Linked DNA regions of Homo sapiens. The protein of the gene in region 2 purifies or fractionates together with the protein of the main gene of each other region. This does not show direct contact. Each region holds a gene or a part of one and is shown on either strand. Other genes may lie near its edges.

Region 1 (15,780 bases), on a different chromosome or scaffold from region 2:
GGAGGCGGATGTTGCAGTGAGCTGAGATCGTGCCATTGCACTTCTGCCTGGGCAACAAGCGTGAAACACAGACTCAAAGAAAAAAAAAAGAAGAAGTTAAAAAGGTAGGCCGGGTGCAGTGGCTCATGCCTGTAATCGCAACACTTTGGGAGGCCAAGGCAGATGGATCACCTGAGGTCAGGAGTTTGAGACCAGCTTGACCAACATGGTGAAACCCTGTCTCTACTAAAAATACAAAATTAGCCAGGCATGGTAGCAGGTGCCTGTAATCCCAGCTACTTAGGAGGCTGAGGCAGGAGAATCACTTGAACCCAGGAGGCAGATGTTGCAGTGAGCTGAGGTTGCACCATTGACTCCAGCCTGGGCAACAAGAGCAAAACTCCGTCTCAAAAAAAAAAGTTAAGACCAGGCATGGTGGCTCACGCCTGTAATCCCAGCACTTTGGGAGGCCGAGGTGGGCAGATCACCTGAGGCCAGGAGTTCGAGATCAGCCTGACAACATGGCAAAACCCCATCTCTACTAAAAATACAAAAATTAGCCTGGCATGGTGGTGCATGCCTATAATCCCAGCTACTCGGGAGGCTGAGGCAGGAGAATCGTTTGAACCCGGGAGGTACAGACTGCAGTGAGCCAAGATCACGCCATCACACTCCTGCCTCGGCAACCAGACCAAAACTCTGTCTCAAAAAAAAAAAATGTTAAAAAGGTGGCTGGGCATAGTGGCTCATGCCTATAATCCCAGCACTTTGGGAGGATGAGGCAGGCCTCAGCCTGCCAAACTCCTGGGCTCAGGAATGCTTGAGCCCAAGAGTTTGAGACCAGCCTGAGCAACATGGAGACACCTTGTCTACAAAATACAAAAAAATTTAGCCAGGCATGGTGGTTTATGCCTGTAGTACCAGCTACTCGGGAGACTGAGATGGGAGGATCACTTGAGCCCAGGGGGGTCGAGGCTGCAGTGAGCCGTGATCATGCCACTGCACTCCATCCCAAGCAACAGAATGAGACACAGTCTCCAAAAATAAAGTTAAGCCACGCCCGGTGGCTCATGCCTGTGGTCCCAGCACTTTAGGAGGCTAAGGCAGGCAGATTGCTTGAGCCCAGGAGTTCGAGATCACCCTGGGCAACATGGCAAAACCCAGTCTCTATGAAAAAACACAAAAAGTAGCTGGGCATGGTGGCAGGCACCTGTAGTCCCAGCTACTCAGGAGGCTGAGGCAGAAGAATCGCTTGAGCCCAGGAGGTGGAGGTTGCAGTGAGCTGAGATCCTGTCACTGCATTCCAGTCTGGGCGACAGAGCAAGACTCTGTCTCAAAAACAAAAGTCGGCCGGGTGTGGTGGCTCACGCCTGTAATCCCAGCACTTTGGGAGGCTGAGGCGGGTGGATCACCTGAGGTTGGGAGTTTGAGACCAGCCTGACCAACATGGAGAAACCCTGTCTCTACTAAAAATACAAAATTAGCTGGGCTTGGTGGCACATGCCTGTAATCCAAGCTACTCAGGAGACTGAGGCAGGAGAATCGTGTGAACCCGGGAGGCAGAGGTTGCGGTGAGCCGAGATTGTGCCATTGCACTCCAGCCTGGGCAACAACAGCGAAACTCCGTCTTAAAAAAAAAAGTTGAAAAGATATTTACCTGAGAGAAATGAAAGCACATGTCCACACAAAGACTTATACATGTTGTACATCAATGTATATAGTTGCTTTATTTGTCATATCCAAACACTAGGAACAACCTAAATGTTCATCAACAGGTGAACTGGTAAACAACTGTGGTATATTCATACCACATACCAATAAAAAAAAAGGAATGAACTACTGATACCACCAATAATGTGGATGAACCTCAAAATAATTATGCTCAATGAAAAGAAACAAGACAATAAAGAATATATACTGTTCTTTGTATAAAACTTTATTAATCTTTTTTTTTTTTTGAGATGGAGTCTGGCTCTGTCACCCAGGCTGGAGTGCAGTGGCACGATCTCAGCCCACTGCAACCTCCGCCTCCCTGGTTCAAGAGATTCTCCTGCCTCAGCCTCCCACGTAGCTGGGACTACAGGCATTCGCCACCACACCTGGCTAATTTTTAGTAGAGATGGAGTTTCACCATGTTAGCCAGGCTAGTCTTGAACTCCCGACCTCAGGTGATCTGCCCTCCCTTGAGCTCTCAAAGTGCTGGGATTACAGGCGTAAGCCACTGCATCTCGCCAAATTTTATTATTCTTTATACAAAATCCTTGAAAATATAAACATCCATAGAGACAGAAAGCAGACCAGTGGTTGCTTGGGGGTGAGGGTGGGGAATCAGGGAGAGGCGAGAGGAGGAATTACAAGGGGACATGAGGAAATGTTTGAGAGTGATGAATATGTCCATAGTGATTGTACTGTGGTTTCACAGATGTATACATATGTCAAAACTCAGTAAACTGTACTTTTTTTTTTTGAGATGGAGTCTTATTCTGTTGCCCAGGCTAGAGTGCAGTGGCGCCATCTTGGCTCACTGCAACCTCTACCTCCTGACTCAAGTGATTCTCCTGCCTCAGCCACCCAAGTAGCTGGGATTACAGGCATGTACCACCATGCCCAGCTAATTTTTGTATTCTAGTAGAGACGGGGTTTCACCGTGTTAGCCAGGCTGGTCTCGAACTCCTGACCTCAAGTGATCCACCCGCCTCAGCCTCCCAAAGTGCTGGGATTACAAGTGTGAGCCACCGTACCCCACCTAAATTGTACATTTTAAATATATGTAGTTATTATATTTTAATTATAGCTCAATAAAGTTGTTTAGAAATATAATAATAAATTTTTAAAGAGGCTGTTAGTGTTACAAATCATGACTAAAATAACATATACATACATTCATGGGTGGGTAATAAATAAAAAAAGAAGAAGTAGTAAAATAACAGACACATAATATTAAAAATAACTTGGCCAGGCATGGTGGCCCATGCCTGTAATCCCAGCACTTTGGGAGGCCAAAGTGGAAGCTTCGTTTGAAGCTAGAAGTTCAAGACCAGCCCTGGCAACATAGTGAGACCCCCATCTCTACAAAAAAAATTTAAAATTAGCCAAGCATGGTGGCGCGTACCTTAGTCCTAGCTACTCCAGAGGCTGAGGTGGGAGGATCACTTGAGTCCAGGAGTTTGAGGCTGCAGTGTGCTATAATCATGCCACTGCATTCCAGCCTGGGTGACAGAGGGAGACCCTGTCTTAAAGAAAAAAATAAATAAGTAGCTTTATACTCTGAGATTATAACCACAGACAAAGTGAGCAAAGACTATAGGTTGAGTATCCCTTATCCAAAATGCTGGGGACCAGAAGTGTTTTGAATTTCTGATCTTTATTTTAAAATATTTGCATTATACTTACCAGTTAAGCATCCCAGATCCAAAAACACAAAATACAAAATGCTCCACTCATCATTTCCTTTGGGCGTCATATCAGCCCTCAAAAAGTTTTGGACTTCGGAGTACCTCAGGTTTCAGATTTTTGGACTCGGGATGGTCAACCTGTAGCAGTGAAGTGGGGAGAATGTCTTGAAATAAAAAGCAGCTAAGGCTCTCATCATAACATATAGTGTCAAAAGTGAGGGTTATTCTTGGTTTTTATATTTAGGGAAATATCAGTTAAAAAAAATTATGAGCTGGGCGCAGTGGCTCATGCCTGTAATCCTAGCACTTTGAGAGGCCAAGGCAGGAGGATCACTTGGGCCCAAGACTTCAAAACCAGCCTGGGCAACACAGCGAGACCCCATCACTAAAAAAAAAATTTTTTTAATTAGCTTGGCATGGTGGTACACACCTGTGGTCCCAGCTACTCAAGAAGCTGAGATAGGAAGATCACCTGGGGTCAGGAGGTTGAGACTGCAGTGAGCTGTAATTGCACCACTGCACTCCAGCCCAGATGACAGCGCAAGACCTTGCTTAAAAAAAAAAATTATGAGGCTGGGCGCAGTGGCTCACGCCTGTAATCCCAGCACTTTGGGAGGCCGAGACAGGTGGATCACCTGAGGTCAGAAGTTTGAGAACAGCCTGGCCAACATGGTGAAACCTCGTCTCTACCAAAAATACAAAACTTAGCTGGACGTGGTGGCGGGAGCCTGTAATCCCAGCTACTCGGGAGGCTGAAGCATTGAACCTGGGAGGTGGAGGTTGCAGTGAGCTGAGATTGTGCCACTGCACTCCAGCCTGGGTGACAGAGCGAGACTCCATCTCAAAAAAAAAAAAAAATATTATGAACTTCGAATCCGGCAGACACTGGGCTTCCTATTTTAAAAGGCATCACTACCAACCTGTCACCAGGTAGACAGACCCACTGGCTCCCAAGTCATAATCCTGTGTCTCCTCTAAATACCCAGAGCCAAGAAAGCAGGGCAGCACCCCTCCCGGAGGGCACAGGAGACCCACCAGTCCCTACCCCCCTGTCTGCATCAACTCTTACTCTAGTACCACACTTGATAGGTTCACATCCATCTGGAGCTTTGACCCTCATTGCCTACGAAGGCAGGGATTCACTGGCTTCCAAACTGAGAAGGTACTACCACATTCCCACATGCTGAAGACACCCCCTTCAGGGAAGGCGATAAAACCCAGGGTTTCTGGCACAAGTTTGAACTCCTCCATCTCCCCAGCTGCTGTGGCTAATCGGTCCCCAAGTTCTGTGGAACCTACCCTGTCTAGGATTATTTCTGAAAGGTAAATTCCGTGATGGCAGGGCCCATGTCTCTCTTGTAGCTGTGTCCCTAGCTCCTAGAGCCACAGCAGGTGCTCAGGAAGTGGATGTGATTGAATGCATGGTGAGACAGGACTACAGAAGACATGCTGGAATCAAGCAGGTAATGATGTCATGCAGTAGGTGTTTCCTCACCTCCAACCCGGAGGTTCTGACAGGGCTCCTGTGCCCGGAACCTCTGCTCCCCTTCAGGCAGTGAGCCAGTTTCACTGATGGGAATATGCCCGGTATCAGGTGGGCTGGGTCAGAAACAAAGTTGAATGCCACCACCAACCCATCTGCTTTCCAGTGACCCTCTCTCCTTCAGCCTGTGCTACTTCTTGCTTGGAATCTTGCAGAAGCCTCTTAGCTGGCCCCGTGGACTCTATGTTCTCCCTGGTTTGATTGTGTCCTTCCTGCCCTTCTTTTTTTCTCAGAGATAGTCTCGCTCTGTCGCCCAGGCTGGAGTGCAGTGGCAAGATCTCTGCCTCCCAGGTTCAAGCAATTCTCCTGCCTCAGCCTCCTGAGTAGCTGGGATTACAGGCACCTGCCACCATGCCCAGCTAATTTTTGTATTTTTGGTAGATGGGGTTTTGCCATGTTGGCCAGGTTGGTCTTGAACTCCTGACCTCAAATGATCCACCCTCCTCTGCCTCCCAAAGTGCTGGGATTATAGGCATGAGCCACCCCACCCCAGCCCCTAATCGACTTCTTTACAAACCTTATGACTCGTTAAGGTTTGTAACCCAAAAACTTTGCCTCCCACATTCATCAGAGTTGGCCCCAGTGACTTTTGGACATTTCCATGACTGGGATTGTTCACAATCATTTGCTCCCAGCTCCAGAGAGGGATTTCCAAGCAGCAATGGCAGTGCCCCTGGGACAAGGGGTCAGTGCTCACCCAGGCACGGCAGGCCTGGGTGTCATGGAAGCCCACCCTCCTTCCCAGAGAACTGAAGTTGTCTTTGGCACTGCCTTCAGGTTCCTGGGCACCTGGAGGGTGTCTATTTCTCACTGAGGTCAAGAGTTCCTTAAGGAACAGTCCTGTGACCTGTTCATCTTTATGTGCCCAGTGCCTGGCACCCAGCAAGGATGATGGCAGCAGAGCAGAGGAGATCTGGGCAGAAACAAGATTCAGTCTGGGTCACACTGAAAGTGTAATTTCTTTGGCTGTCCCCTTATCTGTGAGAACAGAATTTGTGGGAGGATTACGAAGCCAGGGCCAGAGTTGGAGGGCTTAGGCTTGGCCTGGGGACAGCAAGGAGCCTTGGGACTTTGTACCACAACCATAGGAATGTGCAGAAGGGGCCTGGTCAGGAGTCAAGTGGCCTGGGTTCCACACAGCACTGACACTTACTAAGCCCTCTAACCCTGGAGAAGTTGTTTCACTTCTTTGAGTTCTTGGCATCTGCTAAATGCGATGAAAATCCTATCCTCGCCCATTTCAGGGGGTAGCTGTGAAGAATCTAGAAGAAATTTGGAAATTATAAAAGGCTATATAAATTACAAGGGCAGGGCCAGGCATGGTAATGGCTCGCACTTGTAATCCCAACACTTTAGGAGGCCAAGGTGGGAGCATTGCTTAAGTTCAGGAGTTCAAGACCAGCCTGGGCAACATAGCGAAACCCTGTCTCTACTAAAAATGAAAAAAATTAGCCAAATATAGTGGTGTGTGCCTGTAGACCCAGCTACTTGGCAGGCTGAGGCAGGATTGCTTGAGCCCAGGAGGTCAGGCTGCAATGAGCTATGATCACACCACTGCATGCCAGCCTGGGTGACAGAATAAGACCCTGTCTCAAAGAAAAAAAAAAAGCGGGGGGAGGGGGCACTTGCTGGTGGCACTTTCTATGGATCACAGCCTTTCATGGCGCTATACCAGAGGGTAAGGGCCTCAACCCAATCCCACCTCCAACATAAACAGGCCAGTTGCCTGTGGGGTGCAGCATAGGTCAACCTCTGAAGAATACATTCTAGCCAGGTGGGAGGTGGAACAGGGACCCTCCAGCCACCATGACACCCTAACGCCTTCTAAACCCCACCCAGGCCAGCTTGGCATCAAGGAAATGAGAGACAAGCAGCTCTGAGAGTGTGCTCCAAGAGGTTTATTAGTATCCACACTGGGGAGCTCTGGGTTCTTGCCCAGAACAAGGGGCTGAGAACATCCAGTCAGGATGCAAGGCCACCACAGGCTGAGGGGACTGGCACTGGGGATATGGCAGGGTTTCGCCTTCAAGCACAGCCAAGACACCCTCCTTTGCCCTTGGAGTCTCCTCCTGAAGAGCATGGCTGTCTTCCCCATGGAGAAAATGAGGTCTCCAGAGGTTTCCTGCCTTGCCCAATATCCACCAACCCCCTCAGAATCTAGACCCCCCCTGTCTGTTCCTCACCTCGGCCAGGATCGGGGGACACCCCCATTTTGCAGAGTCAGCCCCACCCCCACCTCAGCAGGCCCCAGCTCACTCCTAGAACCTAGTGACTAAAGTCTGGAGCGGATAAATTCTATCAGGTTCTCCAACTGCTCCTCCAGGCGCTGTTCAACTCCATGGTTCTCGATGACCCAGTCAAAGTCCCCGAAGTTGTCCAGGCCACATTCTGACTCAGCATCGTCCACCCCTATGAAGGAAGCATGGTGAGGTCAGGCCTCAGCCCTCCAGACAGACAGCAGGCATCAAGGCCTGCTAACCCCAACTGGAGTGGGCCCTCCCGGCCTCTCCTCTGCTACCCTAGAGCCAAGGGCTACCCACCCAGAAGGCACCTCCCTACCCCTGAAACACTGTGATGGCAGGTTCAGTAGCCCATAGCCACCTGGGCCTCTCAGCTGATCCCTCCTGACTTAATCCTTCACTTGCTACTGCCTACAGAGGGTGAATCGGGTCATCTAAAACCACACACAACCCAAAAGGGCACTGTGTTTTCATTTTCTGTCAAGCTGGTTGTGTCCTTTTCTATCCCTAAATCTGTCTGACTCAATCCCCTCAGGAGGCAGCATGTGCTGGAGTCAGAAGCAGAGGGTCAGGAGGCCAGCTCCTCCTCTCACTCTTTGTGACCCTGGGAAAGAGACTTAACCTTTCAGGCCAGGGCCTCATCCAACCATGGGTAAACTAATAACAGCATCTACCTGCTGAATCTGTTTTGATGGTAAAGTGAGACAGTGCATATAAAATGCTTAGCACAGGCCTGGACATGTGAGTGCCCCAGAAATGAGCAGCATTAGTAGTGGTCATACCCATTGGATCTGAACTGCTGCTCTAAGTCACAGTGATCTAGGGCAGGAAGGAAGCCTGAGCTGTGCTTCTGAAGCCCACAGAGCGGGTCCTGGGCTTGCACCACTGAAGCTCCCAGCAGAACTTCCTCTCCACTACTAACTTCTAACTCCACTACTGTGTTAAACAGAAGTGAGCTTTGTCAGGTTTGCCCCTGACCACTGTCAGCCCCTACTGGGCTGGAAAGCAAAGGTGAAGAATCATGGGGGTGGGTCCCAGCCAGACCACCAAAGCAGCCCACTGGCCATGAGAAGATAGCCTAGGTTAAGCCAAGGGAACCTTGACCCTCAGGATTCTGTCCACCATGCTACTCCCTAATCAGGAGGCCTCAGATTCTCCTTTATCATCCCTTATTCACTTCCCCCAGGCCTGCCCGGTAGACAAACCACAGGGTGGGTAGCCTGTGTCCTCCTGTGCCCTACACATAGAGTGGCTCACCTGGCGTGAACACCCAGCCCCGCTGCTGTCGGCTCTGCTCCAACGCTACAACGCGGACCGTCTGCGTCACGGCCCCATAGGCCTCCCGAAACCACTGGATGTCAGACACTCTCCGTGTGTCACTCACCAGCTGCAGGAGAGGGACAGACAGGTGACCAACAGGACAGGATGATAGAAGTGAGGGGAGGTGGGAGGACTACAGAACCCAGGGCAGTGTGGGGTGTGGCTCTACCCCCCCATCATCGTGAGCATGTCAGCAGCTAGACTCACTATTCACGGATTCATTCATTCATTGAACATACACCACTGAGTGCTGACTACATGTCAGGCAGTGCTGCTGACAAGTTCATTAATCCAATTAAACAAGTATTATAGTAAGTACCTACTGTACGCTGGTCACTGTGCTAGGTGCTAAGGCTAGACTGGTAAGCAAAACAGACCCTGTGCCTGCCCTCTCAGAGCTTACAGTCTAGTGGGAGACACTGAACAAGTATTCAGTAATCAAATAACCATGTGATTACAGTGTATGTCAACAAGTGTCTCAACCTCAACACGGCTGAAACTCAACTCCTGATTTCCTCTCCAATCCTGTTCCTCCCCACCTTCCCTGTCTTAGAAAATGATAATTCTATATTTGTCCACCTGCTCAGAACAAAATCCTTGGTATAGTCTCTCACACCCCACAGCCAACCCAAGGGCAAATCCTGTTGGTTTTCTCTTCAAAATACACGCAAAATTGACCCCTTCTCTCCACTCTACGTTTGCTCCCCTCTGCGCCCCAACCATAGTCATTTTGTCTGTTACAGAAAGGTCCTGGCCAGGCATGGTGGCTCATGCCTGTAATCCCAGCATTTTGGGAGGCCGAGGTGGGTGGTTCACTTGAGGTCAGGAGTTCAAATTTTGCCAAATGGTAAAACACCGTCTCGACTAAAAATACAAAAAAAATTAGTTGGGCATGATGGCACATGCCTGTAATCCCAGCTACTCGGGAGGCTGATGCACAAGAATCGCTTAAACCCACAAGGCAGAGGGTAGAGTGAGCTGAGATCGCGCCACCGCACTCCAGCCTTGGTGACAAGAGTGAGACTCTGTCTCAAAAAAAAAAAAAAAAAAAAAAAAAAAACACAGGAAAGTCCTCCACCCGGCCCCTGTGCTTCTGCTCCCATCTTCCCCACAGCAGCTATGGCCAGGCTTCTCAATCTGAAATCAGATCATGTCTCTCCTCTGCTTAGAACGCTGTAGTGACTCCCCATCTCACTCAGAATAAAATCCCAGCTCTCCCAAAGGTCCGCCCTGGGAAGTCTGACCTGACCTTCCACCACTCTGGCCACCTGGCTTGTCCTCAGACACACCAGGCACACTCACCACTCAAGCCTCTGCACTTCCTCCTCCCTCTCTCTGGAAAGCTACTTCCCCAAATATCCATTCAGTTATCCCTTATTTCCTTCAGGTCTTGCTCAAACATCATCATATCAGTGTAGCCTTCCCAGGCACCCTTAATAAAACAGCAACGCTTCCCTATCTCTCCTCATATCCTAGGCCTACTTTATTTTACTCCTTAGTATTTACCACTGCCTGATATATTCTGTATTTATTCTGTGCCTATCTCCCCGCCACCCTCAGCTGTAATGTAAGCTCCCTGAAGGAAGAGATTTCATTGCGCTTTTGCACCAATATATCCCCACAACATGCAACCACACCTGGCAGAAGTAGACACTCAATATTCACTGCCAGAATGAATGAGGAAAAAAAGGGGTAGGGTGCTATAGGAGCACCTGCCAGGGAGCACCAGTTAAGACCTGAATATTAGGGAAGGCTTCCCTGTGGAGGTGTCATGTCAACTGAGCTGAAGCTAACCAGGGAAAGAGAAAGAAAGGGCAGTCCAGACAGGTGGAAGGGCATGTGCAAAGGCCCTGATTCCAGAAGGAGTTCGACTGACTTGAGGACCAAGAAGGCCAGTGTTGCTACAGCTTAAGGAGTAAGGAGGCTAAAAAAGTAGCAGAAACTGGATCACACAAGGCCCAGAAGTTCATGTGAAGGATTTTCATTTTGTTCATGAGCACAATGGGAAGCCACCAAAGTATTCTAAACAGAAGAGTGACATCACCTGGTTCACGTTTTTAAAAGGTCAGTCTGGGCCGCATGCAGTGGCTCACACCTGTAATCCCACTATTTTGGGAGGCCAAGGTGGGTGGATCACCTGAGGTCAGGAGTTCGAGACCAGCCTGGCCAACATGGTGAAAACCCGTCTCTACTAAAAATACAAAAATTAGCCAGGCGTGGTGGTGGACACCTGTAGTCCCAGCTGCTTGGGAGGCTGAGGCAGAAGAATCACTTAAACCCAGGAGGCAGAGGTTGCAGTGAGCCAAGATTGCGCCACTGCACTCCAGCCCAGGCGACAAGTGTGAGACTCCATCTCAAAAATAAATAAATAAATAAATAAATAAATAAATAAATAAATAATAAAAGGTCAGTCTGGCTACTGTGTAATGAATAGACCACAGAGGGCAAGAGCCACAGCTAGAGACCAGTGTGGAGGCTACTGCGACTGTCCAGGCCAGAAATGGTGGGGGCTTGGGCCAGGATGGTGGCAGTGGAGACAGAGAGAGATGGACACAGCGAAGAGCTAGGGAAACAGGTGTTCTTCATGCTGCCATGGAGCCCTCTTACCCAGATGGGCTGGGAGATGCCCTCCACAATCTTCCTGCAAAAGAAGCCTGGGTCAGCCTGGCGTTTCTCCTCTCCCCAGCGGATCATGTCCTTCCGAAAGGCCTCCTTGTAGGTGCTGGTGTCCAGGAGTCTCTGGAAGTTCAAGCCATGCTCCTGCCCAAAGGACATTATGTCTACGTCACCGGCCTTTCAACCTCAGTGGTCTCTCCTAAAACAGCGGAAGAGCCATCCCTCACCCTCACCTGCCTCCCCCAGGGCTGATGCAAGGATTAATGAGGTTTCAGCCAGGACAAAGGTCTGCAAGGGCAAGAGTCTCAGCAACTAAGAAATCCCGATCACTGGTAGACAGAAGAAAGGTCTGGGGATAATCCAGAAATTGTTTCAATTTGTCTTTGAAATATGTGGCGTGGTTTCTCTTTTGCAAGTTTTACCTTCCCAATTATTTCTGGCTTAAACTAATACTGAAATTAGTTTGCATCCCCTGGGCAAAGGCTTAGCCTTCAACTAAAGTGGGAAATCTGAGGGGGGAAAAAAAATCCTGCACTCCATGTCCTCCCACTAGCATTGTTTGCCCCCATCCCAAATCCCACGGAGATTGTGTCTCCTTTCTCTCCCCCTTACCCCTTCCCATCCCCAAATTCCTGGCGCCTTTGCTGAAACAGCATCACTCCATCTGGCTCTGGGCACTTGCAAGGCCTCCCACACCCAGAGGACCCCCAAGGCAGGAGAGGTTACTCTGACCACCCTGGGGAACTCCTTTCTCCCCTTTCCAAGCAGAGGGGTCCATCCAAAGGGATCCAGGATAGGAGGGGTCTGAAAAGCATCACCTCGTTCAGATTCTGGCTCCTCCATGAACTCACTGCAACAAGACCTTCTCCCCTCAGGCTCTCAATTTCTTGATCACCCACCTGCTCCCCTTGCTGCAAGAGGAGGTCAGTAGCCACCTCCTGCTCCTGAACCAGTTTCCCTCCAGGAGCGTTGTGGTCTACTTGTTGGTTATATTTCTTCTTGTGACTTAGGAAATCAATGCATGAACATTTCATTTTGGTTTTGTTTTTTAATGGGAGTGGGGGATAGAGTGGTGCTGGACTTGCACAGAGCAAGGGCAGTCTGGCCTATCAGAGTCTTCCATGGAGCTTTTAAAAATGCAAACTGGCCAGGCACAGTGGCTCACGCCTGTAATCCCAGCACTTTGGGAGGCCGAGGCGGGCAGATCACAAGGTCAGGAGTTCAAGACCAGCCTGACCAATATGGTGAAACCATGTCTCTACTAAAAATACAAAACAATTACCCGGGCGTGGTCACCCATGGCTGCAATCCCAGCTACTCAGGAGGCTAAGGCAGTAGAACTGCTTGAACCCCAGGAGGTGGAGGTTGCAGTGAGCCAAGATCGTGCCACTGCACTCTAGGCTGGGCGACAGAGCGAGACTCCGTCTCAAATATAAATAAAATAAATAAATAAATAAAAATGCAAACTCCTGCTCCTTCTTCCTCCCGCCCCCCACCCAACCCCACCAGTCTCACTCAGTAGGACAGAAGCAAGACCTGTCTGGGAACTTTGGAAGATCAGTTTTGAAAGTGCTCCTGGGAGGCCTTTGGAAGTGCCTAGGCCCCACTAGGGAAGGCTCAGTGCCTTCCCCTTCACCCCTTCCTTCCTCCCATCCCCCCACCACCACCCCACCACCCTGCAGCATCGCTCCCAGTCTGTCTCCTGGATACAAAGAAATTCTGTATCCAGTTTCATTTGGGAAAGAATCCTGCTTAAAATTTTTGAAAACCAGGCCAGGTAAAGTAGCTCCTGCCCAAATCCTAGCACTTTGGGAGGCCATAGTGGGAGGATCACTTGAGCCCAGGAGTTGGAGACCAGCCTGGGCAACATAATGAGACTCCCATCTCTACAAAAAAAAATTTTAAACTTAGCCAGGCATAGTGGCATGCACCTGTATTCCTAGCTACTTGGGAAGCTCAAGTGGGAGGATCACTTGAGCCCAGGAGGTCAAGGCTGCAGTGAGCCATTATGCGCCACTGCACTCCAGCCTGCGCTACAGAGCAAGACCTTGTCTCAAAAAGAAAAAAAAATAAACCACTTAATTTAGTTATTCTTACAATTCCTCAGGCTGCCACCCTATGAATAGGTCTGTTCAGCTGGTGAGAGATGACCCAATGCTTCCCATGGAGGCAAAGATGGCATATAGAAGGGGGGACAATTCATTTTATGTGGTTCCGGAAACCACACTCTGGCCAATTGAGGGGCCAAAGCACACGTCCCAGAAGGGTGCACCTAGAGGTCAAGGGCAAAATGTGGCGACAAGAGGGCTCTTCACCATGTGGGAGGCTGATCTTGCCTTCCAAGTTCCCTTTCTGAAGTCTAAGATTCTGAGAGTTCCTGTTGACTTATTTTTTTTATTCTATTTTAACGATTCTATTTTTTTTAATCCATGTGGTTCAAAATTCAAAGATACACATTAATTTACAGTCGAAAATCTCTCTCTCACCCTGTCCCCTCCCTGGGGGCAACCAATGGTACGGTTTCTAACCTGTCTTTCCCATGCAGTGCAGGAACACATCCCAGGCACCTGAAACAGTGCTGAACATGAGACAGGCACCCTGTAAATATTTGTTAAATAGCCAAATATATGAGCAGATATATTTAGAATTCTTTTACAATTCTTGGTCACAAAGTGCCTCTTCAGTTTTAGACAAATGTAGCATTCTCTACACACTGTTCTATATCTTGGTATTGGCTTTTTTTTTTTTTCACTTAATGATATATTTTGACAACTTCTGGGACTAAATTTCTTTTTTGTGTGTTGTTGTTTACTTTAAAAAAAATTTTTTTTAAAGAAACGGAGATGGGGTTTCACCATGTTGGCCAGGCTGGTCTCTAACTCCTGGACTCAAGCAATCTACCTGCCTCGGCCTCCCAAAGTGCTGGGATTACAGGCATGTGCCACCGTGCTCGGCCTGTACTAAATTTCTAGGAGCAAAGTTCTAGGGGCTGTGTCAGGCCAGCTGAGTGAGAGGGTGGTGTGAGGAGGCACAGGCAGGTCCTTACTAATCACACAGCATCAGAGCTGCCAACTCGAGTGTCGACAGCCTTTCCTGGGCACACCTTCCTGAACTCACTCTGAAGGGAGGGAGGCTATTAGGAAAGAAATATAAGCTGAAAATGCCCCCGAAAGGTCCACTCACAGAAAACCAAGAGCTGGCCACCACCCTGCCAGCAGTGGTGACGGGAATCATGCCAGTGACTCAGGCAGCAGCCACAGCTCCAAAGTCCTGGAGCCGGCCCCGCCCAACACACCGGATGCCACAAAGCACCACCTACCTGAGCATACTGTTCCTTGAGTGGACCAGAGAGCCGGAGGACAGCACAGACATCAGCTCCAAGTCTGCAGGACAGGGAGATCAGAATCCAGTTAGCCTAGAATTTCCAGGAGCTTCCATGTCCCAGAAAGGGAGTCAAGAGGCCTGTGTTGAAGTCCCATTTCTACTACTGGTATTATGTAACTTTGGTAGGTCTCAATGTCCCTGATCCTGTTTCCTCATCAGAAAATGGGGATAACACTTTCTGTTCTGTCTCCCACACAGGATTATTATGAAACTCTAAAGAATATAAAAGAGCCCTGAAACTAACAGGTAAAACCTATAAAGTGCTAATTACAGTGTGAACAGGCGCACAATATTCTAGCTGGATTAGGTTATTGCCCAGACCCTAAACTAATTCTCTCATAGCCAGAGGTATCTGTCTCCACTGACTTGGTCACCATAACATATATCATTTATTAATTCACTGGTTGGGCATGGTGGCTCACACCTGTAATCCCAATACTTTGGGAGGCCAAGGCAGGAGGAGTGCTTGAGGCCAGGAGTTCAAGACCAGCCTGGGCAACACAATAAGACCCAGAGATACCATCTCCACCAAAAAATTTAAAAATTAGCTGAGCATGGCAGCATGTGCCTGTACTCCCAGCTACTCCAGAGGCTGAGGTGGGAGCATTCCTGAGCCCAGGAGTTCCAGGCTACAGTGAGCCATGATTGTACCACTGTATGCCAGCCTGGGAGACAGAGTGAGACCCTGTCTCATAAAAATGAAATAAGAAAAGCAAATTTAAAAAACTGAAACAAAAGCCAGGTGTGGTGGCTCACGCCTGTAATCCCAGTACTTTGGAAGGCTGAGGCAGCAGATCACCTGAGGTCAGGAGTTTGAGACCAGCCTGACCAACACGGTGAAACCCTGTCTCTACTAAAAGCATAAAATTAGCCGGACATGATGGCGCATGCCTGTAATCCCAGCTACTCGGGAGGCTGAGGCAGGAGAATCACCTGAACCCAGGAGGTGGAAGTTGCAGTGAGCCGAGATCGCCCCATTGCACTCCAGCCTGGGCAACAAGAGTGAAAATCCATCTCAAAAATGAAAATAAAAATAAAAATAACTCATTCGTTATTTAATTTACTTAACCAACCTTTTTTTTTTTTTTTTTTTTTGAGACGGAGTCTTGCTCCACCACCCAGGCTGGAGTGCAATGGCGCGATCTCGGCTCACTGCAATCTCCGCCTCCCAGGTTTGAGCGATTCTCCTGCCTCGGCCTCCCAAGTAGCTGGGATTACAGGCGCCCGCCACTACACCCGGCTAATTTTTGTATTTTTAGTACAGACGGGGTTTTGCCATGTTGGCCAGGCTGGTCTCAAACTC
Region 2 (16,510 bases):
CGGGTTCAAGTGATTCTCCTGCCTCAGCCTCCCGAGTAGCTGGGACTATAGGTGCCCACGACCACGCCCAGCTAATTTTTGTATTTTTAGTAGAGACGGGGTTTCACCATGTTGACCAGGATGGTTTCGATCTCCTGACCTCGTGATCTGCCCGCCTCGGCCTCCCAAAGTGATGGGATTACAGGCGTGAGCCACTGCGCCCCGGCTCCAGATATGCATTTATCTCAGTGAGCAGAGGGATGACTTTGAGTAGAATGGGAGGCAGTTTGCCCTAAGCAGTTCCCAGCTTGACTTTTTCTTTAGCTTAGTGATTTGGGGGCCCCAAGATTCATTTTCCTTTCACACTGTATATCCCAAAGTTCTGGAAGAGGATCAGGCACATAATAGGTGCTCAATAGTTGATGAATTGAACCAAATTGAATTGAATCCTTCCCACAGTTCACTACTCCTCTTTTTTTTTTCTTTTTTTTTTTTCTGAGACGAAGTCTGTGTTGCCCAGGCTGGAATGCAGTGGCAGGATTTCGGCTCACTGCAACCTCTGCCTCTTGGGTTCAAGCAATTGTCTTACCTCAACCTTCTAAGCAGCTAGGATTACAGGCATGCGCCACCACGTCCGGCTAATTTTTGTACTTTTAGTAGAGATAGAGTTTCACCACGTTGGCCAGGTTGGTCTTGAACTCCTGACCTCAAGTGATCTGCCTGCCTCGGCCTCCCAAAGTACTGGGATTACAGACATGAGCCACCGTGCCCAGCCTTTTATTTTTTTATTTTTTGATACTCTTTCTGTTGCCCAGGCTGGAGTGCAGTGGCATGATCTTGATTCACTACAACCTCCACCTCCCGGGTTCAAGCAATTCTCCTGCCTTAGCCTCCCGAGTAGCTGGGATTACCGGCGTGTGCCACTGTGTCCGGCTAATTTTTGCTATTATTTTTAGTAGAGATGGAGTTTCACCATGTTGGCCAGGCTGGTCTCGAACTTCTGACCTCAGATGATCCGCCCACCTCAGCCTCCCAAAGTGCTGGGATTACAGGCGTGAGCCACCGCGCCTGGCCTGTATTTCTTAAATGTATTTGAATGTATTTGATTGAGGCCAGGCGCGGTGGCTCAAGCTTGTAATCCCAACTCTTTGGGAGGCCGAGGCGGGCCGATCAGCTGAGGCCAGGAGTTCGAGACCAGCCTGGCCAACATGGTGAAACCCCATCTCTACTAAAAATACAAAAATAAGCCAGGCGTGGTGGCGAGCGCCTGTAATCCCAGCTATTGTACTTGGGAGGCTGAGGCAGGAGAATCGTTTGAACCTGGGAGGCAGACGTTGCAGTGAGCCGAGATTGTGCCACTGCACTCCAGCCTGGGTGACAGAGTGAGACTTGGTCTCAAAAAAAAAAAAGTATTTGATAGAAGTCTCATGTCTCCCTAAAATGTATAAAAGCAAGCTGCACCCCAACTACATTGGGCACATGTTCTCAGGATCTCCTGAGGGCTGAGTCACAGGCCATGGTCACTCATATTTGGCTCAGAATAAATCTCTTCAAATATTTTACAGAGTTTGACTCTTTTTGTCAATATCACCATCTATTTTATTTGTGTCTTATCTCATTACAAAAAGAAACTGAGCTCCGAAAATCATATTATGCAGTAAACATGAGACTATTTGTGCATGCACACGTTATTTATTATAAAATACTTTTGCAAAGACACTGAAGGTTTTTGACGTAATAATTCATTCTTCTACCACCCTTACAGAGCAAAAGTTTTCTATTTTTTCATATTCCAAATGTGCCATCATAGTTTCAAGTCTGTCTTCTGCCTTGTTCTCTTAGCATTGCTTTATAACCAATTTTCATGTCGCTACGTGGTCTTTGCAGCTATAACGTTTCCTGGAATATAATGTTGCATCAAATAGATTTCATCTTCCTGGTAACAGCAGTGTCCATCTCCTACGAAACTCTCCATCACCCACCCGACTCCATGTGGTTCCAGTGGGACAGCCAATCACAACAGCCTCCCTCTGGCCACGTGACTCAGGTTTGTTCAATCACAGTGCCGTATTCCTCTGGCCACAGAGACTGGTCCAGGAATGAGCAGGTCAGGACAGACTCCAGGAGAAAGAGAAGCTTCTGGGCCTCTGAGAAAGAGAAGCTTTCTCTTTCCTCCAAGCTCACAAGGCAGGAACAATCTAAGTCAGGAGCTGTCTATACCTTGGCCTACTTCCTTCCCCTGGAAAAGGAGGAAGCCAGTCAACAGTGGGAGAAAATGAGCCCCATACCTGAGGGAAGCAGAGCCAAGAGAGGGAGGAAGCCTGGCGGTGGCGCATGCCTGTAGTCTCAACTACTCCAGAGGCTGAGGCAGGAGGATCACTTGAGCCCAGGAGTTCGAGGCTGCAGTGAACCAAGACCACGCCCCTGCACTCCAGCCTGGGTGACAGAGCAAAAAAAAAAGCTGGGGATTACAATGATATTTGAGTCCCTTGGACCTCCCAGCTTCCAGAGGCATGACATTCCCTTTTGCGCTTGAGCTGGTTTTAGCTGGTTTTCTGTCACTTACTGCTGAAAGAACCTTGACCATTACAATTTATCCCCTAGTGCAGAACTGGGAGACAGTCCTCCTAGGGAAGCTTACACTCTTTACCATTACAAATAATTAGTGCAGCCGGGCGTGGTGGCTCACACCTGTAATCCCAGCACTTTGGGAGGCTGAGGCAGGCAGATCACTTAAGGTCAGGAGTTCATGACCAGCCTGGACAACAAGATGAAACCCCGTCTCTACTAAAAATACAAAAATTAGCCAGGCATGTTGGCACAAGCCTGTAATACCAGCTACTCAGGAGGCTGAGGCCAGAGAATGGCTTGAACCCAGGAGGCGGAGGTTGCAGTGAGCCAAGATCACACGATTGTACTCCAGCCTGGGCGACGGAGCGAGAATCCGTCTCAAAAAAAAAAAAAAAAAAAAGACTTCAATTTGAAGTCTTTTTGAAGTATTATTATTATTATTATTATTTGAGACAGAGTCTTGCTCTGTTGCCCAGGCTGGAGTGTAGTGGTGCAATCTCGGCTCACTGCAACCTCCGCCTCCTGGGCTCAAGCCATTCTCCTGCCTCAGCCTCCCGAGTAGCTGGGACTACAGGCGCCCGCCACCACGCCTGGCTAACTTTTTGTAGAGACGGGATTTCACCATATTGGCCAGGCTGGTCTTGAACTCCTAATCTTGTGATCCTCCCGCCTCAGGCTCCCAAAGTGCTGGGATTACAGGCGTGAGCCACCACGCCCGGCCTGAAATATTATTAATGAAGTAACCCTAGGAGCTTCAATGTGACTGGTTTAGACTTTGCTTGGAGAGTCTGTTCTGGAAGGATGAAGGAGCCCATAAGCGTCTGCTCCATCTCTTTGTGTCCACACCCAGCAGCCTCCTTCGGTCTTCCTCATGTCATTGACCTGTTGGTTGGAAAAAGTGGGTGTCAGGGAGAAGAGGCACTTTGACTGTTCATTTAAAATCAGGCAGAGGGGTTTAGCCAAGCCAAGAGGCAGGGCATGAAGGAGCATTGTGGGAATCCAGGGAAGCGCAGGCACAGCGAAGAGGAAAGTAGGCACGTCTGGAGAACCGTGAAAGGGAAACAAACTGATCTGAAATGAAAAGAGGGACACATGGAGGCCATATCGTGAGCAATCACACCGGGCAGACAGGCCCTGAAGGTTTCAGAGCAGAGTAGGGGGAGTGGATCACGATAGTTTTTGTTTGTTTGTTTGTTTGTTTTTGAGACAGGGTCTTAAAATCGCCTTTGTAAAGTTATAACTGAGGAAATTATGACAGTGAAAGAAATCAGACCTCACCAGTTCCATGTTGCTTCTAATCTTTAAGCTGTCCTTGTTCATTCCTCAGCGTAGGCTGAACTAACTTTGGGAAGGAATTCAGTTCATGGTTTGACTCTGAAACAAAATTGTTAATAGTCCTTAACTGAAAAGACCCCCTTCTTGCCTGGGGACCAGTCTGCCTTTGCAGGACTAACAAATTGACAGATTAGCTACAAGATTATAAATTAGTTTGGGGGTCATGCAGCCGCTGGCTCTATGAATCAGCTGATACCACCCAGACCTTAATCTGGCACCACCTGTTCTGTCATCACACCCAGGAACAGAAGACAGCAAGAAAACCTCACTTCGACCCCCTGCAATTCCATCTCCAACCTGACCAATCAGCACTCCCCACTTCCCAAGTCCCTACCCGCCAAATGATCTTTAAAAACTCTGATTCTGGTAGCCGGGTGCGGTGGCTCAAGCCTCTAATCCCAGCACTTTGGGAGGCTGAGGCGGGCAGATCACGACGTCAGGAGATCGAGACCATCCTGGCTAACACGGTGAAACCCCGTCTCTACTAAAAGTACAAAAAATTAGCCGGGCGTGGTGGCGGGGGCCTGTAGGCCCAGCTACTGGGGAGGCTGAGGCAGGAGAATGGCGTGAACCCGGGAGGCGGAGCTTGCAGTGAGCCAAGATGGCGCCATTGCACTCCAGCCTGGGCGACAGAGCGAGACTCCGTCTCAAAAACAAACAAACAAACAAACAAACAAACAAAAAACTGATTCTGCTTGGGGAGACTGATTTGAGTAATAATGTAATAAAACTCCCGTTTCGGCTGGGCACAGTGGCTTATGCCTGTAATCCCAGCACTTTGGGAGGCCGAGGTTGGCAGATCACGAGGTCAGGAGTTCAAGGCCAGCCTGGCCAACATGGTGAAACCCTGTCTCTACTAAAAATACAAAATATTAGCCGGGTGTGGTGGCGCACGCCTGTAGTCCCAGCTACTCGGGAGGCTGAGACAGGAGAATCGCTTGAACCCAGGAGACAGAGGTTGCAGTGATCAGAGACCATGCCATTACACTCCAGCCTGGGTGACAAAGCGATACTCCGTCTCAAAAAAAAAATAAATAAATAAGATTTGGTTTAGGAGTCATGCAGCTGGAGGCTGCAAGATTCTGAACCTCCCCAAATTGCTCCTGGGGATAACATCATTCTTGTAAAACCTAAGATGAGTGCTTGTGATATTTTGCAGACCCTGCACTCAAAGCATCATCTGGCAACACCCGGATCAATAAACTGGTTCATCTGTTCTTGTGGCCCCCACCCAGGAACCGACCCAGTGAAAGAGGAGAGTTTCAACTCCCTGTGATTTCGTCTCCCACCTAACCAATTAGCACTCCCCACTTTCTGACCCCCTACCCACCAAATTATCAAAAACCCTGATCTCTGAATTTTCAGGGAGATTGACTTGAGTAATAATCAATTTTGCATGTGGCATGGCCGGCCTCGTGTCAATTAAACTCTTTCTTTACTGCAATGCCGTGGTCTTTATTTGTGCAGAGGACAGGAAGAGCCCACTGGGCAGTTACATTTCCACTGAGGATGCTAAGCTGGTGGAATATGGGCCTGCAGCTGCTAGTGGCCATCAGTGAGGTGGCCTGAGAATAAAACCGATACATGGCAGAGGTGGAGAGAGACAGATTTGAGTGCCTGATTCTGCTGGCCTGAAGTCATGTGTGTGTCTGGAGCTTTCAGTTGTGTGAGTCAATGAGTTCCCTTTTTGTAAGCTAGTTTGAGTTGGATTTCTGTCACTTACAACAAAACAATCCCTTATAAAGGGAGCTTCTAATAAAAGAAGTGTTGAGTCCAGCTCCCTCCGGTAGGGCCAGGACTTGGAAGTCCAGTAGACTCTTTCATGGAGCACAGAACACCTGGGCCTCATTTCTGTCTGCAAAGCTGTTAATGTAGGTAGCCTGCCTGTGATGGGGGATAAATCAGGAAGAAGCAGTAAGGAAAAGCTGGCCTGCTCTGGGAATTTATACAGGTTTTGGCCCAGGTGAGGATACACAGAGACGATCCTTCCTCACCACCACTAGGTGGAGTTTGAGCACTTCGGGTGCGCGCTCAGCAGCCAAAAGGAACCCATCAGTGTCTAGGCTACCAAGGAAGAGGCAAGAAAGACACAGCCCCCTGCCCTCCAAGCCTCCCCGTCTTTCTCGCTCCCTCTCTATGTTACCACCCCTTCTTTCAGACACCTGGGGACTTTTACGTTCCCTATGCAACTCCTCTCAAATCTGATTCATGACATTCACATCCAGGAAAAAATGGTAACAGCCTACAATAAATCAAGACAGCATGATATTGGTCAAAGGCTAGACACACAGATCAAGGGAACAGAAGTGAGGGCACAGAAATCGAGCCACACAAATATAGAAAACAGATTTTTTACAAAGGACCAAAGGAAGAAGAAGAAAGAAGAAGGAGAAAAAGAAGAAGAAGGAGAAGAAGAGGAGGAAGAGGAAGAAGACGACGAAGGAGGAGGAGGAGGAAAGAAGAAAGAAGAAAAGAGAGAGGAGGATGAGAAGAAACCAAACCCAGACCTCACATAATTTACAAAAATTAACTCAAAATGGATCATAGACCTAAATGTAAAAAGTAAAACTATAAAGCTTCTAGAAGAAAACATAAAAGAAAATCTAGGTGACCTTGGGCCTAATTATACATTTTTGGGTTTTTTTTGTTTGTTTGTTTTGTTGTTGTTGTTGTTGTTGTTTTTTGAGACGGAGTCTAGCTCTGTTGCCCAGCTGGAGTGCAGTGGTGCGATCTCGGCTCGCTGCAAACTCCGCCTCCTGGGTTGAAGTGATTCTCCTGCTTCAGCCTCCCGAGTAGCTGGGATTACAGGTGCCCGCCACCACACCCAGCTAATTTTTGTATTTTTAGTAGAAATGGGGTTTCACCAGGTTGACCAGGCTGGTCTCGAACTCCTGGCCTTAGGTGATCCACCCACCTCGGCCTCCCAAAGTGCTGGGATTACAAGCATGAGCCACTGCATCCGGCCTCAATTTTTTTTTTTTTTTTTGAGACAGAGTCTCACTCTGTCGCCCAGGCTGGAGTGCAGTGACGCGATCTCGGCTCACTGCAAGCTCCGCCTCCTGGGTTCATGCCATTTTCCTGCCTCAGCCTCCCTAGTAGCTGGGACTACAGGCACCTGCCACCACGCCTGGCTAATTTTTTGTATTTTTAGTAGAGATGGGGTTTCATTGTGTTAGCCAGGATGGTCTCGACCTCATGACCTGGTGATCCGCCCTCCTCGGCCTCCCAAAGTGCTGAGATTACAGGCATGAGCCACCACACCCGGCCAATTTTTGTATTTTTTTTTTTTAGTAGAGATGAGGGTTCACCATGTTGGGCAGGATGGTCTCGATCTCTCGACCTCATGATCCGCTGACCTCAGCCTCCCAAAGTGCTGGGATTACAGGCCTGAGCCACCATGCCCAGCCCTGATATATATATATATAGATAGATAGATAGATAGATAGATAGATAGATAGATAGATAGATAGATGTAATTTTGAGACAGAGTTTAACTCTTGTTGCCCAGGCTGGAGTGCAATGGCGCAATCTCCTGCTCACTGCAACCTCCACTTCCGGGGTTCAAGTGATTCTCCTGCCTCAGCCTCCCGAGTAGCTGGGATTACAGGCATGCGCCACCACCCCCAGCTAATTTTGTATTTTTTTTAGTAGAGAAGAAGTTTCCCCATGTTGGTCAGGCTGGTTTCACACCCCCAACCTCAGGTGATCTGCCTGCCTTGGCCTCCCAAAGTGCTGGGATTACAGGTGTGAGCCACCACGCCCAGACTCCTGATATTTTTTTTATTTTATTTTTTTTGACTCCTGATATTTTTAATTAAAAAAAAAATTAGGAGGTCAGGGAACCCAATATGGAAGGCAGATTGTGGCAAAAGAATTTAATGATACTACTAATGTATGAAATAACTTTTCTGAAGGGAGCTGGGGGAAAGGTGCTGACCTGAGTAATTTTGGAAATGAGTCGAGTCTGTAAGATCAAAGGCAAATGGAACTACACATAAGCACTGTACCCTAGTTTATAAGATTGTTCTCCACAGGGGTATGTGTTAACAATTCTCTTTTGAGACATTATGATTACAAATAAAGAAATATTTTATTTTATTTTATTGAAACGGAATCTTGCTCTGTAACCTAGGCTGGAGTGCAACGACGCGATCTTGGCTCACAGCAACCTCCGCCTCCCAGGTTCAAGTAATTCTCGTGCCTCAGCCTCCCAAGTAGCTGGGACTACAGGTGCGTGCCACCACGCCCAGCTAATTTCTGTATTTTTAGTAGAGACGGGGTTTTGCCATGCTGCCCAGGATCGTCTTGAACTCCTGACCTCAGGTGATCCACCTGCCTCAGCCTCCCGAACTGCTGGGATTACAGGCATGAGCTACTGTGCCTGGCACATATAAAGAAAAATTTTAGGCTGGGTGTGGTGGCTCACCCCTGTAATCCTAGCACTTTGGGAGGCCGAGGCAGGTGGATCACCTGAGGTCGGGAGTTCGCAAACCAGCCTGACCAACATGGAGAAACCCTGTTTCTACTAAAAATACAAAATTAGCCAGGCGTGGTGGCGCATGCCTGTAATCTCAGCTACTTGGGAGGCTGAAGCAGGAGAATCGCTTGAACCCGGGAGGCAGAGGTTGCAGTATGCCAAGATCATGCCATTGTGCTCCAGCCTGGGCGACAACAGCAAAACTCCATCTCAAAAAAAAAAAGAAAGAAAGAAGAAAAAGTTTAGGCCGGGTGCAGTGGCTCATGCCTGTAATACCAGCACTTTGGGAGGCCAAGGCGGGAGGATCACCTGAGGTCAGGAGTTCGAGACCAGCCTGGCTAACATGGTGAAACCCTGTTTCTACTAAAAATACAAAAACAAATTAGCCAGGTGTGGTGGTTCGTGCTTGTAATTCCAGCTACTCAGGAGGCTGAGGCAGGAGAATCGCTTGAACCTGAGAGGTGAAGGTTGCAGTGAACTGAGATTGCAACATTGCACTCTAGCATGGGCAACAAGAACAAAACTCCGTCTCAAATAATAATAATAATAATAATAATAAAGAATTTAAAAAGAAAAACAAAACAATTCTGATACTCCTATACACGTGTCCTGGAATAAACAATTAAGTAAATAGATGGCAAATTATGGAAGCCAGGTTTCTCACAGTTGGGGTGGGAGTTTAGATAAACAAGGGAGGTGGCTAGAATGATCCATGTAGTAATGGATTAAAGTTGGAGACATCAGTATGAATTCATGCTTAGCTTAATATAGATATGGATGGTTATATATGGAAATACATGTTTGTGTATATACGTGGGTTAGTATACACACATATATTTCCTTGCTTTCTCAGATGTGAGGGTCCAGAAGCAATGATACCTCAAAAGCAACAAGCACACCTAGGGCCCAGATCTTGGATTCTAAAACCATTTGCCAATAAAAGAAAATAGGGGTCCTTGGAGAAATGGCTGATTGCAGGACTGTGGCAGGAAATACACAAAATGAGCCTGGAGCATTTTATAGTACCAGAAAGTAAGGTGACACTAAATAAAAACAAGGTTTTAATTAAAATACCAATGATGACAACAACACTGATGGGACTCTTATTTTTCTCCCTGGTTGAGGATTGACCGCCATCATGAATGACTTAGTAACTATCTGAACTAGGAAGTTCATGATCAACTGACTACATACTTCAGGAGGAACAAATGGTTATTGAGGTCCTTCACCCTGGGAAGACAACAGTACCTAAGACAGAAATTCAGGAAAAACTAGCCAAAATGTATGAGACTACACTAGATGTCATCATCTTTGTTTGTTTTTGTTTGTCTTTATGAGATGGAGTCTCCGTCTGTCACCCAGGCTGGAGTGTAGTGGCGCAATCTCGGCTCACTGCAACCTCTGCCTCCTGGGTTCAAGTGATTCTCCTGCCTCAGCCTCCCGAGTAGCTGGGATTACAGGTGCCTGCCACCACACCCGGCTAATTTTTGTAGTTTTAGCAGAGACAGGGTTTCACAATGTTGGCCAGGCTGGTCTCAAACTCCTGACCTCATGTGATCTGCCTGCCTCTGCCTCCCAAAGTGCTGGGATTACAGGCGTGAGCCACCACGCCTGGCCTCATCTTTGTATTTGGATTCAGAACTCATTTTGGTGGTGGCAAGACAACTGGCTTTGGCATGATTTATGATTCACTGGATTATGCAAAGAAAAATAAACCCAAATGCTGACTTCCAAGACATGGCCTGGATGAGAAGAAAAGAACTCAAGAAAGCAATGAAAGGAACACAAGACCAGAATGAAGAAAGGGGGACTGCAAAGGACAGTGTTGGTGTGGCAAAAAGCCAAAGGAGTAAAGATGCTACAGTAACATCTGTGGCCACTGTGGATTTTTCACAAGATTTATAAACTAAAAACTTTTGTGTGCAAAAAAAAATGGATGGGGGTATGCTAAAGAGACACAGGAGCCAACGGAAACAGCTCTCAAAGGCCAAAGCTAGAACGAAATTAGCTAGAAAATAAATATGAAGTATATTGGATTATAACCCAAAGTATAAATGTCCATGAGTCCATACTGATTAAATAAATGGTTGAATAAATAATGGAGGAGTAGAGACAAATATCTCATATGAAAGAACTCCAGGCCAGGGATGGTGGCTCACGCCTGTAATCCCAGCACTTTGGGAGGCTGAGGCGGGTGGATCACGAGGTCAGGAGATCGAGACCATCCTGGCTAACACGGTGGTCTCTATTAAAAATACAAAAAATAAGCCGGGCGTGGTGGCGGGCACCTGTAGTCCCAGCTACTTGGGAGGCTGAGGCAGGAGAATGGCGTGAACCCGGGAGGCGGAGCTCTCAGTGAGCTAAGATCGCGCCACTGCACTCCAGCCTGGGCGACAGAGCGAGACTCCGTCTCAAAAAAAATAAAAAATAAAAATAAAGAGCCTAAGGACTAAGGATTTAATTAACCAAGCACCAACCCGTGCAGCCTCAGGAGACTGGTCCCGCAGCGCAAGTGTGTCCCTCTACCCCCCGCAAGCCGGGCCGCGTCTTCCTGGCTCTCCTGGCGCCGGCACCGAGCAGGGCGTGGACCTGAACTTATGTGACCCCACCCGGTCACAACCCGGGGTAGGAAGCTAAAGCCGTCCGCCCACCCGAGGGGCGGTCCCAGCACCCCAGTGGGGGACTGCTGCGCTCGGCCTCTGTGTTCGATCGGGAACCCAGGTCTCTTCCCTGCCAATAACAAAACCGCCGCGTCCCGGGCCTCCCTTCCGGAGCCGGAGTCGGCGGCCGAGCGCTGGTGGCGGAGCCTGGACAGTTAATTCCAACCGCCTCCGGGTGATTCCGGGGACAGGAGCGCCGAGAGCTCCTCCCTTTGGCCGCGGAGCCGGCTCGGCGCTGATTGGCTGAGGGCCTCGGTTGTGGCTCTTGAAGGCTCCCCATTGGCCCCGCGCTCCAGTGGCAGGAGTGTGGCGGCCCGGCCTCCGCAGGCTACCCGGGGTTGAAGCTACTGCGAGCTCCGGTGGCTGCCTGGGGACGCTCAGGGACGCTCATTCCTGGCCAGAGTCCTGACTTCTTTCTCGGATCGAGATCTCGTTGCTGGCTCGAGGAAATCACCGGCTCTTCTCCCGGATCCTTTTCTTCTCTCACTTGCTGGCTTTCTTCTTCCTGCCTCCCTGGCTTCCATCTCCCAACCCCGCGATTCCCTCCTCTACTCCCGTGCTCCCGTCGCCCGCCATCCTGAGCCATCCCACCTGCAACCTTCTGTCTTTTGCCCCTCCTTGACCTCAGAGGGTCCTGCCTTAAGCTTCTCACCAGAATCTCCTAGATTTCTATCTCTTCCCTGCTTGCCAGCTCTTGACTCCCAAATTCCAGCTGACGTTTGACCACTTGACATTTGACCCTGACACCCTTGACTGCAAATCTAAATTCTTATCTTCTGCAACCTGTACTGCTGAAACAGGCCTTCCCCCTGTCTTCCAACCCCGCTTTCTGACACCCATTTTTACTTTCTTACTCTTGGGTCAGTTCCTGCTACAGCTATCCCACCATGGACTTCTTGATGAGTGGCCTGGCAGCCTGCGGGGCCTGTGTATTCACCAATCCCCTGGAGGTGGTGAAGACCAGGATGCAGTTGCAAGGAGAACTGCAGGCCCCTGGCACATACCAGCGGCACTACCGAAATGTCTTCCATGCCTTCATCACCATCGGCAAGGTGGATGGCCTTGCTGCCCTGCAGAAAGGCCTGGCCCCCGCCCTCTTGTACCAGTTCCTGATGAATGGCATCCGACTGGGCACCTATGGGCTGGCTGAGGCTGGGGGCTACCTGCACACAGCCGAAGGCACCCACAGTCCTGCCCGCAGCGCAGCAGCTGGGGCCATGGCTGGGGTCATGGGAGCCTACTTGGGGAGCCCCATCTACATGGTAAGAAGAGGGCTCTTGCCTGGGACCTTCAGGGCAGATCCTCGTTGTAGGATAGGAGCTGTTCTTTCCCAAGGGCATAGGTGGCAGAGTGCTGCCCCACTGCAAGCAGGGAAAGGCATCAGGAAAGTGCTGGTAGGCTTCGGAGTCTTCTGATCTGCCCTATACACACCCATCTGATGGACACGATTGAATGTATTGATTAAGATTATGGGCTTTGGGGCCGGGTGCAGTGGTTCACACCTGTAATCCCAGCACTTTGGGAGGCCAAGGCGGGCGGATCACGAGGTCAGGAGATGGAGACCATCCTGGCTAACACAGTGAAACCCCGTCTCTACTAAAAATACAAAAAATTAGCCGGGTGCGGTGGTGGGCGCCTGTAGTCCCAGCTACTCGGGAGGCTGAGGCAGGAGAATGGCATGAACCCGGGAGGCGGAGCTTGCAGTGAGCCGAGATCCGGTCACTGCACTCCAGCCTGGGCCACAGAGCAAGGCTACGTCTCACAAAAAAAAAAAAAAAAGATTATGGGCTTTGGAATCAGACTTTCTGGAACTAAAATCCTGGCTTTGAAAATTACTAGTTGTTGGCCGGGCGCGGTGGCTCACGCCAGTAATCCCAGCACTTTGGGAGGCCGAGGCGGGCGGATCACGAGGTCAGGAGATGGAGACCATCCTGGCTAACACGGTGAAACCCCGTCTCTACTAAAAATACAAAAAATTAGCCGGGCGTGGTGGTGGGCGCCTGTAGTCCCAGCTACTCCGGAGGCTGAGGCAGGAGAATGGCCTAAACCCAGGAGGCGGAGCTTGCAGTGAGCTGAGATCCGGCCACTGCACTCCAGCCTGGGCCAGAGAGAGAGACTCCGTCTCAAAAAAAAAAAAAAAAAGAAAAGAAAGAAAATTACTAGTTGTTGAGCTTCAGTTGCCACATCTGTAAAATGGTGATAATTATAGTGCCCTTTCTGTGTGATTATTGGGAGGATCGAGGGAGACAAATGCGGTAGACATGAAAGCATTAGTGCGAATCCTGGCAGACAGTAAGCATTTGGTAGCATTTGTTTTTATTATTATGTGTTGATATTGAGGTTGGATTTGTGAAGGGGAGGATAAGGAATTTAACATACGTCAGAGAGTCTAGGGATCAGGAAGGCCCTGGGCATCACAGAATTAACAATCTCAACATCTGCCCCTTTGAGTTATCTGGTATAGGTGAAGGGTCAAGAGCCTGAGGCCCAGAAAGGGGAAGTGACCCACTCAAGGTCACACAGCTGTTTATTGCTAGGACTAGGCCCTGCTTAGTGCTCCCAAGAGCAAAAGAGACGGGGAAGTAGTATGTCCTGTAGCAGAGGCAGTCTGGTCTCATTTCAAGGTGTGAGTTTCAGGGACAGTGGTCTCCCCAAAGTCAGCTCGATACCTCTGTGGGGGTTGGGGGCTAGAGAGCAAGTTTTGCCCAGAGTCTGATGGGGAGCCTGATAGAAGTGGTGGCTGGAGATCCAGTCTGGGAATGGGAGCTAGCATGAGAGGCGGGACACCAGGTCTTGCCTAACATGAACAGCCTTAGGAAATATTGCCATTCTCCAACCACTCCACCCCCGACTGCTAGCCCCAAGGGAAAGAGGATATGAAGGGGTTGGGGTGTCTTGCAGTGCTGGGAGATCCACCCCCCTGGGGCTGGAGCCTAGAGACAGAGTCTTTTTGTTAACCAGTTTGTTAAGTAGGAAGAACAATAATCAGAGTAAGAGGCTATTCATTGCTGAACACCCTAGAGGAAGTGTGAGGGGGTGAGACATTTGGTTCTCAGGTAGGAGGATGGCCACTGGGGCACAGGCTATGATATTCTCTTGTTCCCAGGTGAAGACACACCTGCAGGCACAGGCAGCCTCAGAAATTGCTGTAGGGCACCAGTATAAGCATCAGGTGAGGGTTCCCAAGTCTGCCAAAGTCCCTGACCATCCTTTCTCTTTTCCCCTAGCTTTCTGCCTGCACCCAACAGATCCAATCCCAGCCACTGCTCTGCTCAACCCATCGGTTCTGTCCCATTTTGCCCCTGGAGTCTACCCAGACCCTCTTTACTCTTTTTTTAGATGGAGTCTCGCTCTGTTGCCCAGGCTGAAGTGCATTGGCACGATCTCGGCTCACTGCAACCTCCGCTTCCCGGGTTCAAGTGATTCTCCTGCCTCAGCCTCCCGAGTAGCTTGGGACTACAGGCGTGCACCACCACACCCAGCTAAATTTTTTTTGTTTTGTTTTGTTTTGTTGAGACAGAGTCTTGCTCTGTTGCCCAGGCTGGAGTGCAGTGGCGCAGTCTTGGCTCACTGCAACCTCCACCTCCCGGGTTCAAGTGATTCTCCTGCTGCAACCTCTTGAGTAGCTGGGATTACAGCCATGCGCCACCACGTCCAGCTAATTTTTGTAATTTTAGTAGAGATGGGGTTTCACCATGTTGGTCAGGCTGGTCTCGAACTCCTGAACTTGTGATCCGCCCGCCTCGGCCTCCCAAAGTGCTGGGATTACAGGCATGAGCCACTGCACCCGGCAATTTTTGTATTTTTAATAGAGATGGGGTTTCACCATGTTGGCCAAGCTGGTCTCAAACTCCTGACCTCAGGTGATCCACCCGCCTGGGCCTCCCAAAGTGCTAGGATTACAGGCGTGAGCCACCGTGCCTGATGCCTCTTTCCAATATGTACTCCAGTTCCTCTAATTTTCTGCCCCTGTTTCTCCTGACCAGTGAATGGCCTCACTTGCATACATCCCGCCCCAGTTCTTGGGTGCCCAGGGAAGGAACAATGGGGTGGCTAGACAACCAAGGGCCCACATTCTGGCTCTAAGCCCACATTGAACTGGTTGTCTGGACAAGAGATTCCTATTAAGGACCCATCCTTGGCAGTGTTAGGATGGCAGCCCCTGATGCTGGGCTGTCTGAACCCCACCCCCGGTCTTCCCCACACTAGGGCATGTTTCAGGCGCTAACCGAGATTGGCCAGAAACATGGTCTGGTGGGGTTATGGCGTGGGGCTCTGGGCGGCCTGCCCCGAGTTATCGTCGGTTCCTCCACCCAGCTGTGCACCTTCTCATCCACCAAGGACCTCCTGAGCCAGTGGGAGGTACTGCCTGGGAAATGGGTGGGTCTGTTTCGGGAAGGGGGGAAGGGGAGGGCAAGCTGCACTAGGCCCTGGAGGGGATGGTGCCCAACATTCACAGGTGAGGGAGTGGCAGGAGGGCTTGGAGGTCAACTCTTTAGACCCTTCCCACAGTTCTCTTGTCACTTCCTCCCAGAAGGGGTACCTGAGCCTTCAGGGTACCCTGGCCTTCCTCCTTCTCACTGTTTTTGCACTGTTATAACTGGTGCAGTGGAAGCTCCCCCAGTTACCAGCATCTGTGTCCCCAGGGCAGGGACTGTCCTGTCCTTGGGGTGTAATAGTTGGCTGGTTGACAACGCTCTTCCTCTCTACCCCCTTAGATCTTTCCTCCCCAGAGCTGGAAGTTGGCGCTGGTGGCTGCCATGATGAGTGGCATTGCAGTTGTCTTGGCCATGGCACCCTTTGATGTGGCCTGCACAAGGCTCTACAACCAGCCCACAGATGCACAGGGCAAGGTAAGGAAGTGCTCTGGGATGCAGGCGGGAAGCAGGGGATGGGGAAGGCAGATTGCGGGTGCAGGTGGGATAGCCTGAAATGCAGCCTGTAGAGGTGCTGCCCCTGGTGGGCTCTGACAAACTCCTTCTCTGTGCTCTCCCTCCCTCTCTGACACACTCTCAGGGCCTCATGTACCGGGGGATACTGGACGCTCTGCTGCAGACAGCTCGGACCGAGGGCATTTTTGGCATGTACAAGGGTATAGGTGCCTCCTACTTCCGCCTCGGCCCCCACACCATCCTCTCCCTCTTCTTCTGGGACCAGCTGCGCTCCCTCTACTACACAGACACTAAATAACAGCCGCTTTCCCAGTCTCCACCAAATGAGCACTCCTTGGCCACTTGTGCCTCCACCACTATGTCCTGGTGACTACTGATTAGGTGACCTTTCATCCATCCATGGGGGACAGCCAACCCCACTCCCCATCTGTTCTCAGGGTTGAATCACTACAAGAGATGAGTTTCCCTTCTTTCCTTGGGTGTTGCTTTAAACCTTCCCTACCCATTCCCTGGGTAACTCACACCCCTCTCTCAGGGCTGAACGAGTCATCCCAAAGTGTATTTCCTCCCACTCACCACTGCCACCCTTGAGTCCC

What was found.
Region 1: the proteins of SLC25A35 (region 2) and PMVK purify together in Homo sapiens (affinity purification with mass spectrometry; 2 studies listed by BioGRID and IntAct, with this or other methods). This does not show direct contact.

What each region holds. Positions count from the first base shown.
Region 1 is NC_000001.11:154,917,940-154,933,719, forward strand, and holds the end of PMVK (phosphomevalonate kinase), read right to left. Parts: intron 14,477-15,780; coding exon 14,413-14,476; intron 11,238-14,412; coding exon 11,085-11,237; intron 8,545-11,084; coding exon 8,415-8,544; intron 7,327-8,414; coding exon 7,190-7,326; 3' UTR 6,801-7,189; downstream 1-6,800. UniProt on the Homo sapiens protein: Catalyzes the reversible ATP-dependent phosphorylation of mevalonate 5-phosphate to produce mevalonate diphosphate and ADP, a key step in the mevalonic acid mediated biosynthesis of isopentenyl diphosphate and other polyisoprenoid metabolites.
Region 2 is NC_000017.11:8,290,207-8,306,716, reverse strand, and holds the start of SLC25A35 (solute carrier family 25 member 35), read left to right. Parts: upstream 1-11,316; 5' UTR 11,317-11,909; coding exon 11,910-12,284; intron 12,285-14,128; coding exon 14,129-14,194; intron 14,195-14,361; coding exon of another isoform or gene 14,362-14,445; exon of another isoform or gene 14,446-14,539; intron 14,540-15,231; coding exon 15,232-15,384; intron 15,385-15,740; coding exon 15,741-15,875; intron 15,876-16,038; coding exon 16,039-16,212; 3' UTR 16,213-16,510. UniProt on the Homo sapiens protein: Putative antiporter that exchanges dicarboxylates and sulfur oxoanions across the inner membrane of mitochondria.